Linked DNA regions of Homo sapiens: region 1 is linked to region 2. The links come from fine-mapping of genetic effects on gene expression. Tissue or cell type: testis. Region 2 holds a variant in brackets; the other region holds the start of a gene. All regions are shown on one strand. Distances are from middle to middle.

Region 1 (5,226 bases), 140 kb before region 2:
TCAAGTGCTCAGCAGTCACATGTGGCTAGTAGCTGCAAAACAGATAACAGAAAATGTGCATCATTGTAGAAAGTTCTGTTGGACAGCATTGCAGAGGACTCTCATTCCAGACAGGGCACAGCGAGTATAAAGGTTGCTTGATTTGAGTTAAACAGTGACGTGGCTCTTCTGTGTACACATCCTACTATTCCCTGTTGTTTGCCTATTTTTATCCTGAAGCTAAATGGCATTTGTCATTTATCACCTTAACCTAAACCAATTTTCCAAAGGCCCTTCTTGAACTTTAGACGCTTGGTCTATCCCATAGAATCTAAGGAATGCTGGCCTTGCATTGAGCAACTGTGTGAATGGGTTTGAAGACCAGGAACCTGGACCAGGAGACGGAACACGTGTTCTACTTTGGAGTAGAGTAAGTTCATGGTATGATTCAATGTTGTCATTGGGGTGATGGGGCGCAAGCACCCACTAATCTGAGTGTCCTGGAGGGCTTCTAGTGGGCCAGGTGTTCACCCTTTAGTTGTATGTCATGGGGAAGTTGGAGGTATGGGGGTGAGTGGCACTCTGGGGCTCAAGACAACGACCAATTACCAACTGGAGCTGCAATATCTTAACACTGTAAAAACGGATAGAGTCTGACATGGTAACATACAAATGCAATTTCAGCCTTGGATAAATGCATGTGATAGGTATTTGGAAACTGTAATGGACTATGGAGTCCTATTATAAAGTCCTTTCCAGTTAACACACACAGCTTAAGGTGACAGGGTTTAAGGCCTTCTGCAGTGTGTTACTAGCATCCATTCTGGTATCTTCTCTTACTTCTTCATTATGTCATCTTTCCCTTCACTAGCATGACATATTTTCAGTGCCCAGTGAGTTCTGTGTGATACCACCTTTGTGTTTTTCTCATGTCTTTCTCTCTTTTTTTTTTTCTTTTTTGAGACGGAGTCTCACTCTGTCGCGCAGTGGCGCAATCTTGGCTCACTGCAAGCTCCGCCTGCCGGGTTCACGCCATTCTCCTGCCTCAGCCTCCCGAGTAGCTGGAACTACAGGCGCCCACCACCACGACCGGCTAATTTTTGTATTTTTAGTAGAGACGGGGTTTCACCTTGTTAGCCAGGATGGTCTCGATTTCCTGACCTCGTGATCCGCCCGCCTCAGCCTCCCAACGTGCTGGGATTACAGGCGTGAGCCACCGCGCCCGGCCTCATGTCTTTCTTCCTTACTTGAAGGACACCTACCCTCCTTCTGCCTGGTTGAATCTTCCCCACTCACCCTTAAGGTGCAGTTTAAACTTCCTTCCTTTCGTGGATTTAGCTTTGCCCATCCCAGGCCAGAAGCATTTCTCTCTCCTGTGGCCTGAAGTGGTCTTACCTACACTTACTTGGCAATTAGCAAGAGTACAAGTGCAATATCTTTGTTTTTCTGGATGTTTGTCTACTCCTAGGTTAAGTCTTACCTTCCTTAAGGGCAGAGGTCACAGTTCGTTCCTCCTTTTTTGTTACATGGCATGTTTTTATACATATTTGCCAAGCACCTACCATGTGAGTGGCTGAGGGCACAATGGTAAACCAACTCTGGACCCTGACCTCCTACGATTCTTGTCATTTTTTAAAAATGTGAATAAGCTTATTCAACTTTTGTAAGTCTTAGACAAAGATGGGGATCCCAGCGCCCCACTGATGAGAAGTCAACACCCTGGCTGGCCCTTGTTGAAGACAGATTGAGCTGAGATGTGAACATTCACACTCCCTGGCGTTTAAGGCACTGCTGGAATAGTTTCACTCTCAATGATCCAGAATTCCTGCCTCCTGGAAGGGTGTAAACAATGATTCACACCACGGCAGGCCTTTACAGTTCACCAAGCACATTCATCACAGCAGCGGGCTTTCAGGGAAGGTCAGGTTCTGACATGCTAACAGAGATTCACCTTCAGGTCACCAGACTTGCAGCTACTCTGCTCAACACCTATCATAACCAACAAAAGTTTTCTCCCTTCGTCCTTTAAGGATGCGTGTGCCAAGAAGGGTCGGCGCAAAGCAATTTTGCCTCATGGTGTTTGCCTTGTAGCGTGTCTATTTTGAAGTTCCTTGGCCAAAACAGTTCCCAGGAGTAAAGATTACGATGAGGGGCCAGGCTGTGCAAAACGCGCGGGAGGGCGGACGACTCTCCAGCACACTTGGTTGAAGTCCAAGTCAACCCCTGGCTATTCGAAGAAGTGAAGCAGGACTTTTCAGCCTAAGGGGTAGGGGGACAGGGACAGGACAGAAGAGCGGGTTTGCCGGAGATTCTGGGAATTCTGCACCTGTGGATGAGCCGGTGCCCAAGGTGCCCTCTTCCTCCCGGGTCCCGAGTGGGAGATCCGAGGGGGACAGGTCCCAGGCAGCTTTCGCAGGCGAAAGGGCGGGGCGGGGCGGGGCCCGCGCACCTGGGCGGGGAGGGGAGGAGAGAGGAGGGGAGGGGAGGCGCGCGGGGCTGAGCCTCGCGGGGGCCGCGGCGCGCGCCAATGGGCAGCGGCTGGCAGCGCGCCCCGCGCCCGAGCCGCAGTCGCGCCCTCTCGCTTCCTGGCGAAGGCGCGGACGGCGCGCGGAGGCGAGCGCGGTGGAGAGGAGCCCCCGGCGCCGCAGCGCCGTCAGGGCATGAGGATGGCCGTGGGCTCCGTCAAGATGCAGCCGCCGTGCGAGAGCCCGGCCCTGGCCGCCGCGGCGGCGGTGGTGGCGGCAGACGGCCCCCTGCGCCGCAGCCCCAGCGCCCGGGAGCCCGAGCGCGAGCAGCCGCCGGCGTCGCTGCGGCCGCGGCTGAGGGACCTGCCCGCGCTGCTGCGGAGCGGGCTCACGCTGCGGAGGAAGCGGAGCGCCGCTGGGGGCCGGGTGAGTGGCCCGGCCCTGTCCGAGTGGGCACGGGCGGCGCGCACGTGGAGCCCGCGCCCACCCCCCGGGCCGCTGAGGGGGGCGTCTGGAAGTTGGGGAGGTGGCGGAAGGGACGCCCTTCTGCCGGACTCGGCTGAAGAGGGGCCCGGGACGGCGGGTTTTGAGGTGCCACCCCCTGAGCGACGGCTTCCCCCGCCCCCACACCTCCCCCCCACCAGGCTGCACCTGACTTAACCCCAGGGCCCCCAGATTCAGGCTGCGGGACCGGGCATCGGCTGAAGACGAGCTGTTTGCCTCTTCTCGGAGGGGAAGCTGCAGGTGTCCAGCGTCCAACAGCCAGCCAGCCCTGTCCCAACCGCAAGCTTCAGGCCCCACGAGCGGCATCCCTGTTTGCAGGACGCATGCGACGTGTGTGCTTGTTTTGGAGGTGCTGTTGCAAGCTCTGGGCATCGAGACTGGTTTTGGTGGTCTCCACCGCCGAGGGGCAGACCCAGGAGTCGGAAGCTCTTGGGTGAGCTTCCAGTTCCTGGGTTCCGGTGTCTCCAGCACTTAATACTCCTGGACACCCTCTTGAGCAGGAGGGTGCACGCCCCCAAGAACCTTCAATATTGACTTCCTGATGGTGTGTTCAGATACGATTTCCTGGTGAAGGAGTGTCCCTCATTGAGTTCTAAGTGCATCTAATGACCTGAGCAGGTCAGGCATGTTTTGTATTTTTAAGAGAAGCAGGAAGGTCTGCTGATTGTCTCCTGGGATCTTTAAGAAGCCACCTAGGAGGCCCCGCCAGGGCCTCAGGACACAGAGCTGACTTACTCAGATTTCCCTGCTCACCAGGGTTTGGCGGCACCTTTGGTGGGTTCTACTCATCTTTTAAAAATTTATTATTAAGTGGTCTTTAATGAGAAGCTGCATCAATGTGGTTTTTCTTTCCCGTTTGGCTGTAATTTTTAAAATGCAGTCTTGTCTGACTTAAAACAAGACCTTGCTGGGAGACTTCTAGCTCTTTCAGAGATGGGTTTGTGTAAACTTGAGAGTGAGGGATAACCACTTGTTTTCATGCGCCCTCCTTTGGGTAGGGAAGGGTCTGAACTGATGTCGGTCTTCAGCTTCTCGAGGCTGCATCTCTCTTTTCCTAGGCATTTTCCATCTCAGGTGGAAAATGGTCCATCCCAGGTCCATCTCAGAAGATGTTCTGAGGATTCTCTGTGTGTGATGGGACATTCTTAAAGTCGGTGACCCAGAGAGTTTAGGAATTGCCCACAAGTGACCTTAACATGTGTGGCATTTAGGATTGCCTGCAAAGTAAGTGAGGAAATGTGTCCCCAAGATGTGGTGTCGGAATAAACAAGAACTGGAGTTATAGACTTTGCAGGAATCCAGGGAAAAGTAGGTCAAATTATGTTTCTATTATCCTTGACGGTTACTTTTTCATGGCACAGAATACTGAAGACATGAGGGCTGCCAGGCAGTCTGCGACAAGAATTGCTGAGGGTTTCTGTATAAATAGATCTATAGTATTTATTTGCGTTCATACTCATGTTTCTTGCTGCCTGGGAGGGTGTCGTATACCTTGTCAATATACCTATTTAGTTTTATTTTTTAATTACTCTGAATGTGGTTACCTCAGATAATGTATGCTTTATTAACCCTCTTTGATTCTAATACTGTATTATTTCTTTTTGGGACTTTCCAAACACATTTCGTAACTGCATAGCCAGTTTTTATTGAAGGAAGTTTGATTGTCAGTTTTTCCAGTGTTGGAAACCCATACTTTTTGACTATTTATTTGACTGTTTATTTCCCCTTTCTTCTGCCTTGGAACTACCTTTGTGATTTTGGAATCTTCCCCATCAAAGGAGTAGGAAGGGGGTTGAAAGAAGGAGAAAAACAAGTGAAATATGAACTTGTCTTAGGCAGCTCAGGCTGTCATAACAAAATACCGTAGACTGGGTGGTTTAAACAACAGGAATTTATTTTCTCACAGCTCAGGATGCTGGGAAGCCTGAGATCAATGTGTAGGCTGATTAGGTTTCTGGTGAGGGCTCTCTTCCTGGCCTGCAGATGACCACTTTCTCGTATATCCTCTCATGGCCTTCCCTTGGTAAACGCAGAGGAAGAGAGGGCTCCCTCTTCTCATAAGGCCACTAATCCCATCATGAGGGCCCCACCATCATGACCTAGTCTAACCCTAAATAATTATCAAAGGCCTCATCTCCAAATAATGTCATGTTTGGGGTTAGGGCTTCAACATAAGAATTTTGTAGGGGGCATACACTTAACAGTCCAAAACACAGGGGGTTTGAAAGAAAGAGAGATACAAGTAGAATATGTATCAGACTGGTTGGTTGGTGACTTG
Region 2 (5,226 bases):
AACTTAAAGTATAATTAAAAAAAAAAGAAATCTACATTGGGGCTGATAATTGTAAAGGCTTTTAACATGAGGCAGAAATTTAGTGATTGAAGATTTGCAGCTTTGCTCTGGTTATCTGCTCTGTCACCTTTAAACCTTCATTTCACTTGTAAAACAGAACACTAACATTTTTTACTTCTTGCGTGACTGTCATATCATGGGTGCATTAACAGCTCTGAAACGTTTTTGTTTCTGAGAGGAAAGATGGTGTGTAAATAAACATTGGAATTATGACTTTTTCTATGTAGACTTTCCTGTGAAGCTTAAAATAAGGAAAGGAATATTAGGGATCTTTCTTTCTAGTGATAAATATAAACAAAGCCATTCTGTCATCTCCCTTCTGCAGGATGACACCAGTGGAATCTTTCAACTCTCAAGGCTGATATTGATGTAGTCCTCCACTAAATGAATTATTTGGTACTAGATGGTTACAGTTTTTGCAGTAATTTATTAGGAATAAAAACCACCTGCTAATTCACTTCAATCTTTTATGTCTTGGGCATTTGATGTGCCTATACCTTTGCTTACCCCTTAAGTTCACAGTGTTCATGAAGGTGGTGCAGTGTTTTCGTTTTTCCTGTCCTCACTTTCTTTACAGTAGCAGTCATCTGCTCTTCATAGAAACTCAGTTCTGACACACAGCATGGACAGAGGAAACTGCAGTTTACTTAACGTAAACCTAGGTCTGCAGTTTCCTCTTCTTGTTATAACAATAATGACCAAACCCTGAAGTTACATACAGATTTCCTTTCTTTTATGATTTTAAAATGCTTCATCGACTTCATCCACCATTCCTGGGCCAAAGCTAGTTAAGTCGACAGTGATAAAATTTGAGTTAGAATCCAAGTTGCCTATTGAGTCATTCTTTTGACTAACCTTCATTACTTTCCAGTTCTAGAATGCCACATAGATGCCAAAGAGAGAGCTAATTTGTAGCACTACTGCACAGGCAAAGACATAAATTTGATAGAATAAAGCCTTTGTTGCTGGTACATCTTGTTACAAATTGAAGGGGATTACAGCTTTCTCAGTAGGCATTTCTAATATTTTCTTAACTGCTAAATGCTGTGATTATAAATGCATGCCATTAGAGAAATGCTTCACTCTATGCTTTTGCCAAGGTGTTTCTGAAATTTAAGAAGTTAAATGTATAATTATCGCAAGCTTCTCAGGAAGCACTCCATTTTTCTATTTTCTATTAACTAGCTGTAGGCACAATGAGCAAGCACTCATTCCTATGTGTTGAAAATTATTATGGGAGGACTTTCAGAAGGGGAAAGAAATGGGCTGTGTCTTCTAAACATTATGATAGTAGAGTTAACATTGAGTTGTTGGTTCTTTAAAGAAATTATCTCTGATGTAGGCATTGTATTTCCTAGCCTTAATTCTGTGACTGTGCCAACAGAGCAAGGGACGTGTGTTATCAGATGGGGACCTTTGAGCTTGACCCTGAAGAATGACTAATGGTCATAGAAGAAGGCAGGGGACAGCATTTCAGGCAGAGGGACCCATGGGAAGATACATGACTGCAGTCCTGGTGATTCCTAGGGAATGGAGAGGGGTGGGCTGGGAGTCAGCCTAAAATTCCATTATGAAAGACTGGTAAGCTAAAAAAGTCTACCAGCTACCCTAAGGAGCTTAAACTTGCCTTTTGGTCAAAGGAAAGCCATCAAAGAAGGGAAGTGGCATAATCAGATGTGGCCTTTGTAAGATCTCTCTGGCATTGCTTTAGAGGAAGAATTGAGTGAAGAAGAGGGAAATGTTGGAAAGAACCTTTAGAAAGCTACCATAGTGAGTCAAGTGAGAGGTGCCAGCCTGAACTGGGGCAATGACCATAAGAACTGAGGAGGGAGTAAATGTGGAAAGTCATTTACACAGTAAAATTGACAGAATTCAGTGACTAGCAATGGGGGATGTGCATGCTATTTTATATTAAGCAATTTGTAAGGATTCTTTGGTATAGTGGCAGACATAAGAATGTTGTGTTTCTTACCACCTTTGCCAAAAAGCTATGTAAGCCATTTCCCTTGCTTTGTTTGCCTGCAGTTTGCTTCAGGTAGCTGAGATGTTAGTATTTATCTCACTGACAGATTGTTAGGTGGGGTTCTGGCAAACACTATGGGGACTACACAAACTTTTCTTTCCAGAACCCTTTGAAAATACCTTAAACAGAGAGAATCTCTGGTAGCTCCCAAATAAACCGACATATTTGGCCAGAGCTTTGGCATTTGCTGCAATATGTGTGCCTTCCTCAGAATTAACTGGGATTTTAGGGTGGCTCTCCTGATCTCTGTAATCTGAGTTGGTGTTACTATACTTCTATTCTAGAATACTCTCTGTCATCCATTCATTTGCTAACTTTTGTTCAAGC[C/T]GATGTCATAGAGGAGCCAGGCTAACTATGGTGGCTCCCAACTATGTGGCTCCTGCCCTCAAGAAGTATAGTCTAGTTGTGGAGGAAAGATATCAACACAACTAACTGAGATACAAGGAAGCAGTGAAGAGAATCCCAAGAGAGACACATAGGAGTTTGAAGAAGAATTTACACCTGAGAAAGCAGGATTCTTTCATAGGGCAGAAGTAGTTTGACCTGGACCTTAAATTAGGTTTTGGGTTGGATTTAAAGAATCCACATTGAAGAAGAGTATTCCTAGTGGGAAGAATAGCATTAGAAAATGCACAGAGATACCAAAATATTAGATGTTTTTTGGAACTCTGAAACGATTTCATGTTTCCAGAATACCAAGAATTGGGGGTGTGGGAGGGGAGGCAGGAGAAGGAAGATTTCATGAGAAATGAGATTGGGACCAGACTGTGGAGGATTTTGAGGGCTGAGAAGTTTTACTTCATTCTAGAAATAATGAGGAACGACTCAGCATTTGTTTGCCTGCAGTTTGCTTCAGGTAGCTGAGATGTTAGTATTTATCTCACTGACAGATTGTTAGGTGGGGTTCTAACTTTTCCTAAGGAAGATGGTTGAGGCAGGGCCTTCATGAGATAAATTATATTATTTCAATCTGACTGAACAGTGACTGAATAGTGAGGGAGCTGAAGAGTGATTAAGCAGACTTGGGGCCAGAGTGAATTCAAGTCTGATTGCCTCTGGAGGGTGTCTTCCTTCAGCCTTCATCACTGGAGTGAGGACTGATAGGTGGCCCAGAAGCCAAGGTAACCGGAACCACAGCAGTCCTTCGAAAGAGGGCATGCACTCAGAGGGCAGCTCTGGAGGACAGAGACAGAAAGAATACGTAGGGAGGGATGGGGGTTGGGGGGCGGGAATGCAGAAAAAGAAAAGGTGCTTGCCCAGTCGTAACTTAGATTTGAAAAGCTTATAAACTTTTCATATTTTATTTTCAGTAAAATAGTTACATCAAAGTATATGACTAGATGGATGTGGGTCCTATTTCCAGGAATATAGCTGCACTATTCACCAGAAAACTGAACCTGTATTTTCCCGAAATGTAGTTTATGCTTTGTAGTGTATTAAATTGTAGATTAGAAATACCAACAATAGCTCCTAACCTGACTTCCTGACTTCCAACTGTAGAAATGAGCAGTATCTGTAAAATGTATGTGAAAACTTGGTTCAGCAATACTTTCCCTAGGGATCCTGTCTGTATCCCTCCCTTGCCCCACCCCATTTTCTTCTGTTCCTTTGTTAAGTCTGGGGACCCACCCTACTTCCTTCCCCTTTTCTAATTCACTCATGAAATATGGATGGGTGGGAAGGGGATTTTGCACACTCTGAAACTGCATCTTGGCACAGTCTGCTGCCAGGGTAGGGTCTCTATCACTCAGCCTCAACCGGAATTTCCTTTTCCCTGTTTCCTGCAGCCTCATCCTGGAATTCTGCCTACGTCAAAGGTTCCTTGTTTAAGGATTACGAGGGGAGAAGTGGTTTGGAGTATTCTGGCTACTGTCACACTTATTTACATATTAAAAGTTGGTCTCTACCTTTTCCCAAATTTCATTTTGTCTCTTTTTAAGCAGTTAAATATAAGGTGAAAATCCTCTTTTTACTCTATATGAAATACTAAAAGGAAAAGAGGTTTGATCATTGTTTTCAAACTTATAATTGTACATCTAGGTGAGTAGTTTCAAGCAATCCCAGCATTATTTGAAGTTTATCAGTAATTTAGTTTAACCAAGAAACTACTTACTAAAGAGAAGTAGAACTTTCTAACATTACTGTAATAGAATTGAAAGTCACAACTAGGGTATAATAGGCAATTCATAATACATTAAGTTGCCCAATTATAAACTGAGAAATCACCTCATTGAAACCAGGTTATTTTTCTTAATAACAAAATCCTGACTTTGTGTTGGATTGGTATTAAAGTATCTTTCCATTGGAATTAGGCTTCCTGGAGTGAGTTATTATAGTCCATTTTTAATAGGGAATAATATGGCCACAGAGTAACAAAAAAGTAGAAGTAGCTAGTTCTTGCCTCCAAGAAGTTTACAGTCTAGCTGGGGAAAGAATTTATACATGGAAAACAGTTAACCATTCAAGACAGCATTTAATGAAGTCTCTAAATAAGACATTTAGAGGGAAGTAAAATCTGGCAAACACATTTCACAACTGCAGCAAACCATGCTCTTCTCATTTATTTAGGAACAAGGTTTACAAGTTTGGTTCACTGTGTGTGCTCTTTAAATTCTAGCTTTTCCTCCAGAAAAATAGCAGTTAACTGCCAGTGAAAGTCAGTGGTGTGCTCCTGCTGTCTGGTGGAACCATCTGCTCATTAGCTGTATTTTTAGGTTTTCACAAGAAGCCCACTGCAAGTCCTAACATTTTTAAAAAATTAGTTTGAGCGGTTTTGAAGAGAGAGGAATTTGTCATTATGCTATTTTTTGACGGTGCTCAAGTTTATTTTAAAAGGCTCAATCAAGAACATTGATACTGGCTCAGTTTGTTTGATTTATCAAACTCATGTTATCAAAGGGTCCTTTTATTCTCTGCTGTACAAATGCTGCTCCTAGCTTTATTAGGTTCTTATTCTTGTAAAATTAAAATAGCCATATCATCTGCAATATGGTTGAAAAATCATTAAAGTGAAGTATTGAAAAGCAGGTTATTTGCCACTGTTGTTTTGCCATCACCCTCCTCCCCCAGTGGTATATCTCACTCCAGACCCCAGGTGACCTTATATTCTTTTCTTCTCTACCCCCATCAAGGCCTGATCTGCA

Alleles and levels. Positions count from the first base shown, and alleles are read on the strand shown. Sizes are in standard deviations (SD) of each study's normalised expression.
For the expression in testis of the gene that starts at base 2,546 in region 1, allele T in region 2 goes with a higher level than allele C (small effect, 0.35 SD a copy in GTEx).

What was found. PIP is the estimated chance that this variant, and not a neighbour inherited with it, causes the effect.
Region 1: RAPGEF5 starts here. The variant in region 2 is fine-mapped to the expression of RAPGEF5 in testis (GTEx, PIP above 0.99).

The regions. Positions count from the first base shown.
Region 1 is chr7:22,354,474-22,359,699 of GRCh38, reverse strand. RAPGEF5 (Rap guanine nucleotide exchange factor 5) reads left to right here and starts at 2,546. Exons shown (of 26, transcript NM_012294.5): 1 at 2,546-2,870. The coding sequence starts at 2,640. RefSeq lists silencers at 2,401-2,790, 2,851-3,080 and an enhancer at 3,201-3,270.
Region 2 is chr7:22,212,768-22,217,993 of GRCh38, reverse strand. All of the region lies in intron 9 of RAPGEF5 (Rap guanine nucleotide exchange factor 5), which reads left to right. Among named protein-coding and RNA genes, the nearest start is that of RAPGEF5, 140 kb to the left of the region's middle. The variant C/T (reference allele first, on the strand shown) is at 2,411.